Homo sapiens: one gene and its partner. The protein of the gene in region 1 interacts with the protein of each later gene in a pairwise test. Each region holds a gene or a part of one and is shown in the gene's direction. Other genes may lie near its edges.

What was found. Proteins that work in one complex are often made in the same cells at the same time.
Region 2: the proteins of MYNN (region 1) and FDXACB1 interact in binary tests that used the Homo sapiens proteins (3 or more experiments, as listed by UniProt).

What each region holds. Positions count from the first base shown.
Region 1 is NC_000003.12:169,783,359-169,786,934, forward strand, and holds part of MYNN (myoneurin), read left to right. Parts: intron 1-118; coding exon 119-202; intron 203-1,263; coding exon 1,264-1,350; intron 1,351-3,057; coding exon 3,058-3,320; 3' UTR 3,321-3,576.
Region 2 is NC_000011.10:111,873,502-111,876,277, reverse strand, and holds the end of FDXACB1 (ferredoxin-fold anticodon-binding domain-containing protein 1), read left to right. Parts: intron 1-173; coding exon 174-1,356; 3' UTR 1,357-2,222; downstream 2,223-2,776.

The sequences.
Region 1 (3,576 bases):
ATATAGAGAGATTTTAATTTAAATAATATTCCAGAAAAGCTTACTTTAGATTATTTGTAATTGATAAATATTATATTGGTATAGTACACCACTTCGCTATCTTTTATTTTCCATCTAGGTGAAAAACCATACATATGTGGTATTTGTGGGAAAAGTTTTATTTCCTCAGGAGAGCTCAACAAACACTTTCGGTCCCATACAGGTCTGTGTTTAGGGAGAACGTATTATTTTTTGTTCTCTCTTAATTTCTTTTTATGTAAACCTTGACTTTTAAGCCATTATGGACTATATGGTATTTAGTCATACTGTACCTATAGCAATATCTTAATGTATAAATATCAACTTATTTGCTTATTTTGTTTTTTTTTTAGTTGTTTGGAGTATGAATTAAATTTGTTAAAGAATTGTGTTGGTTTTCCAAGAAATATGCCAGATAATCAATAGTTTTTAAATGATTTGGATTAAATTGCACAGATATACCAAGAAATGAAAAGGAATAGGTAATACCAAGATAACATCAGATTTTCTTACTAAACAGTGTTTAGTATGCAATTTTTAGGAACAAATTTTAATTTTGACATGCTTATTGTAAAAAGTAGTTTGTAAATTGTATAAAGAAAATATTGAATGTAAAAAATTTTAAAACAAAGGAAAATGCCACTTTGAAAGAGTACTGTTCTGACATTCTCTTTTTAAAAATTCCTTCTCATAATTCCTACCTAGAATAATGTGAGTACTTAATAGAGATTTAGTAAGTTTTTGGTGACTTTATATTCTGACGCGCTTTAGTTTACACCATAAAGCACTGAACAGTTATTTCCAAAGAAGTGTAATATTGTAGCATGCTGTCAGTATTTTTAAGGATTTTCTAATTTGCCAGGTACCTGAGAGCAGAAACCATGATTATTACACTTATTTTCTCCCAGCTGTATCTCTTAGCCAGTGTCTGGCATATAACTGACACTCACTAAATGTTTCATAGAAATACAAGAGTAGGCTTTTGTTTGTTTTAGTTTGCAGATACATTTCTGTTTATGAAAATGCTCAAGTTTTCTTGAGATACAGATTTTTTGTATAAAGGAGTGTCTAGGTTGTATAGAATCTTTCATTTCACTATATTATAACCAGGTGATTAAAGTGACAATTTGAAACCAAATTTAAACACTATAATAATTTTTGCCTTGTGTTCATAAACATTGATATTTTTGTCTTAGCTAGCAGCTTTTAAAATATTGAAATTTAAACTTCTAATTTGTTTTTCAGGAGAAAGACCATTTATCTGCGAATTATGTGGAAATTCTTACACAGATATTAAAAATTTAAAGAAGCACAAAACAAAAGTCCATTCTGGTAAATGCTTGTGTTTTGTTTGCTTGTTTGTTTGTTTTAATTTGGTGCTCATATTAGTGCTATTCCTTAAAATGCTGAGATGAGATTTACATTTAAGCAGTTTAAATTAGATGTCTATTTCAAAAACTAGGTATATACATGTGAGGAAAGTAGCTTTTTTGCAGAAACATTCACTCTGGATTTTTCATATTGAATCTCTTATTTAAAAAAAAAAAAAAAAAACTTGAAACATTTCCTCCTTTGAAAACCTGACTTAATAACAGTCCCAAGCATGAAGGAACATATAAGCAAGCTATGTGTCACTGTTTCCCATACTGGAGTCTGGATAACTCAGGGTTTACTATGGTTATTATGAAAAAAAAGGGGGGGGGGGTGGTGTTATCATGAACACTAGTCCAGAAATGTTTAAGAGGAAATAGGGAAACAGGTAGCCCTACATTGTTATAATATATAAAAATGGAAAGCCAAACAACAAGTTTTGAGTCTATTGGTTAAAGTGAATTCTTGAAAAAGTTTCCCTGTGCTTACCATTTTATTCCGTCATTATTCGACATGACACTAGGCCCTTCTGGTGTGTAAATACTTAAACATCGTAAGTATTAAGTTAGAAACATCTAAAAACTGCAGTAAGTCATTAATTTAACCACTTGTTAAATTTCTGTAAAGTGTACTTTCAGGGAATATGAAGTTAAACAAGGCATAGTTCTGGTACTCAAAGCACTTACAACCTGGTGTGCGAGACCAGAAACCTAAATAAATAATTAAATAAACTAAATAAATAGGGAAAATGTAGGGCATAATCGACACAAAAGTGCTAAAGAAGATACTATGTTTTTCTGAGGTAAGTACTAAAAAAAACTTAATTTTAACTTGAAGGATGGAGAAGAGTTCAAAGATGGAGATGGGAAGAGAGGATTCATTCCGGGCAGAGAACACTGTAGAGAGTCAGTGGGACAAGAAGGAAACCTTAGCTAGTTGAAGTGAAGAGTAGTTTGGGAAGAATACAGATAATTACAATTTTACGAAAGCAGTTTTGTCTGCGTGACAAGGACGGTGAAACCAAAATCATGTCAACACTTTAGAGTAACGGAAGCATGTTAAAGCCATTGGAAAATTTGAAGGCAAAAGTACATCTTTAGTCAGTGTGCTGATTGCTCCCTTGAGTAGAGCAGAATTTCTCACCTCTGAAAATATATGAAAGTGCCATACATACTGTTCTGAACTCACAGAATAATATGAACAACTTATTAAAAACATTCAGTGAATGAAAAGAGTATTTCTTATCACTGTTTAATATTTTGAGGGAGTTAAAGAAGTATAACGACATTTACTCTCAAAGAATTTACAGTCTGGTTGAGGATTCAAGGCATACCTGAGTAGAATGTTAAATGGCAATAAGAGAGATAGATGCCACAAGGCAGTATATGAAAATTGACAAATGTGTGATTAAGCCGATATAACAGCTCACCCTGTTTCATTCTTAATCAAGTCCATTTTTTTAAATGGAGTTGGTGCTTGAACTTAACCTTGAGGCCCAGATTGAATTTACATAGATAGTGAGGAGGGCATATGTACAAAAGAGAAACCGCTTGAGTAAAGGTATGGTGGTTGGAATGTAATTTCTGGGAATGGTAAGTACATTAGTCTACCTCAGGGGTTTAGTTTTGTTTTAAAGATAATGTAGATTTTTTTTTCCTTCCATTCTAGGTGCAGATAAAACTCTAGACTCCAGTGCAGAGGATCATACTTTGAGTGAACAGGATTCCATACAAAAAAGTCCTTTATCAGAAACTATGGATGTGAAGCCTTCTGATATGACTTTACCATTAGCTCTTCCACTTGGGACTGAGGACCATCACATGCTTCTGCCTGTCACGGATACTCAGTCTCCTACATCAGATACATTGTTGAGGTCAACTGTGAATGGGTATTCAGAACCACAGTTGATTTTTTTACAACAATTATACTGACTTTGTAAGGAATATGGAATTGCTAAGATATCATTGGTAGCAAACATCTCTGGTAAGGTGCATATATTCATATTAAATTCCCATTCATTTGAGTTGTGACCATTATTTTTCATTCACTGAAGTAAAAGCACCTGATGCTGCATCACAACTGCAATGTTTGTTTTTATTTTTGGCTTTATGTCTATACTCCACAGAGAGCTTTTTAAGTAATGAATTATGTAGCACTATTTTGGGTGGATGAGTTTTATTTTCTTTT
Region 2 (2,776 bases), on another chromosome or scaffold:
GTTCTGAAATACACGTCTGTTTCTCCTTATGGTAGATGATTTCTTTGTTTCCTTTCAAGATCAATTTAAAGATAATTCTTTTCTGTCCAGCTATTTGTATTTTTAATTCTAGCTACATTATAATTATTTACTATCTTAAGTTAGAAAAGTTATTTTTGTGTGTGTTTAAACAGGGGTTTCCTGGAAGCACCTTCATGTCATCCTATCAAAACCATAAATGAGAAACTCATTGCTGAATTAGGCAAAGTTTTCCCGCTAAAAAGGCTGAAGTGTTCCTACCCTTTGCTGCCACAGGAAGGTACCAGTGTTCTTCCTTTCTGGAATTGTGACTTTCTGTCAGCTGCTTTTTGGATTAGTCTCCATGAAGATAACTCAAATTCTGAGTCCCTGACTGGTGGGACATCACAAGATGTGGAAGACTTTCTAGTGTCATTTTCAGAACTTAGCCTTCTCAAGAATCCTGGAAGAGATGGTAAAGAAGAAGCTTGTGAAGGAACCTGTGGCCAGGCCAAGATCTGCCTTAGACCTTCTCTCCTAGTGCATGTTCAGGATGTCATCGAAGTACCAGACTTCCTCTCAGGTTCTCTGCACATCCTCAGTGGACCTGTCTTTCAGAAGTGCCACATTTTGCCTTTCACAATGCCAGCATTTCATGAAACTTTATTTATCCTTGGGGTTAATCAAAATCTGAAGGATGGCTGTCTTCAATCACTGCTGGATCATCTGAAGGGCATTCTAGATAGCCTGCTGACCCAGACATTGCCGGAGAGCTCTAAGCTGAGCAGTTTAGTCAAATTTGTCCTTCAGTCAAATGGAAAGGATTATATGATTCGTGTGAAGACTCATAATTTTAGCCCAGATTGTACTGAGGATCTAATTATTGGGTCTGTTATCACATCTGCCACTAGTGTTATACATAAAGACCAGTGTTTTGTGTTTGTGTCTATGAACTTGGACTTATTAGCCATGCTTGTCTGGTGTATCTCTGACTGGAGAATGTTGTGGACGTTTGATAACCGTTTCCTGAAAAATTTTGTCCCTGGCAAAATAGAACCCTTTAAAAGTCATTCTCTGTATCCTCCATGTTATGTGCATGATGTTAGTTTTTGGATAGATCAGAAGAAAGGATTTGATGAACTAGAGTTTCACACTGTGGCCCGAGCAGTGTCTCAGGACACTATTATATCCATACAGTTTCTTAGCCGTTTCCAGCATCCAAAGACTCAACAGGTCAGTCTCTGCTATAGATTGACCTACCAGACCTGTGACAAGGCCCTCACCCAGCAGCAAGTAGCATCAATGCAGTCCCAGTTTAGGAAGGAGATTCAACAACACCTATATGTTATACCTCGGTAGTTTGGTAAATCCTTTTCTGCAGTGTGATCCTTCATTGCGGGGGATGTGGAGGAAAATTACCAACTTGCAACCAGTAGTCCTTTCTGGATTTTTGTTTTTGTAAAATCTTTTACTTTGTGACCATAGCTACTGTTCGTTGATCTTTTTTTTTTTTTTTTTTTGAGACGGAGTCTTGCTCTGCCGCCCAGGCGGGAGTGCAGTGGCAGTGGCATGATATCAGCTCACTATAAGCTCCACCTCCCAGGTTCATGCCATTCTCCTGCCTCAGCCTCCCGAGTAGCTGGGACTACAGGCACCTGCCACCACGCCTGGCTAATTTTTTTTTTTGTATTTTTAGTAGAGACGAGGTTTCACCGTGTTAGCCAGGATGGTCTCAATCTCCCGGCCTCGTGATCTGCCTGCGTCGGCCTCCCAAAGTGCTGGGATTATAGATGTGAGCCACCGCGCCCGGCCTACTGTTAGTTGATCTTAAAGATACCTTGACTCTATTACTGAAACTTATAGATTATAATGTGATTGGTGACATTTGGAGTTGTGTAATATTTTGGTCCCGAGAAGTGACTAAAACAATAAACAAAACAGCATCTTGTACTTTAGATGCTCTATTGTTGAACAGGCAGTAGAACTTAAGTGTCTCATCAAATATAAATATGTTTTCCACACTGTCAATTACTCTTCCCTTAACTTTGTTGTATCATTTCATTAAATCACCTTATGAGAGTAGTTTTTGGCATCAGACTAACATTTATTAGCTTGGGAAATTGCAAATATTCCACATTAATTTTGGTATTATTATTATAATCATCACCATTTTAATTCTGTGGTTGAAAGTCATGGAACGAATAAAGTGTCAGATTTAGGGTTAACATTTGGGTCTGTTTGACTCTAAAGCCCATGTTCTTTCTGCTACTTTCTGTTACTTCTTCCCTAGTCTTTAACAGTAATCGTTCAACTGTGATTAAACTTTGCCTCTCTGGATTTTGGGGCCTTCTGTTGTAAGTATCTCTAAGGGACACTGGAAAATTAGCTTAGGATTCTGCAGAATGCGGTACTCTAATGTGAAGTAATGTATGCTCCTGTTAATAGTTAGGCTCCACATTTGGGATTATATTCTGTGAGAGACATGACTGTCTTATTTATTCTTAGAGAAAAGCACTTGGGAAGGCAAGAATGGAAGTACAGAGACAAATTAGGAGGTTATTGCAGTAATGCAAATGAGATAATGACCTGGACCAAGGTGGTAAAATGTTGGGTTGGATAATATTTGGAAGGACTTGCTGATGAATTAAACATTTGTGTGTGGGTGAGAGAGGTGTGGGGTTAGAGAAATAAAGGAATTAAGCAAGACTACTAGGTTTTTGACCTGAATACCTAGAAGATTGGAAGTGTCATTAACTTGGATGGAAACACTGCCATACGA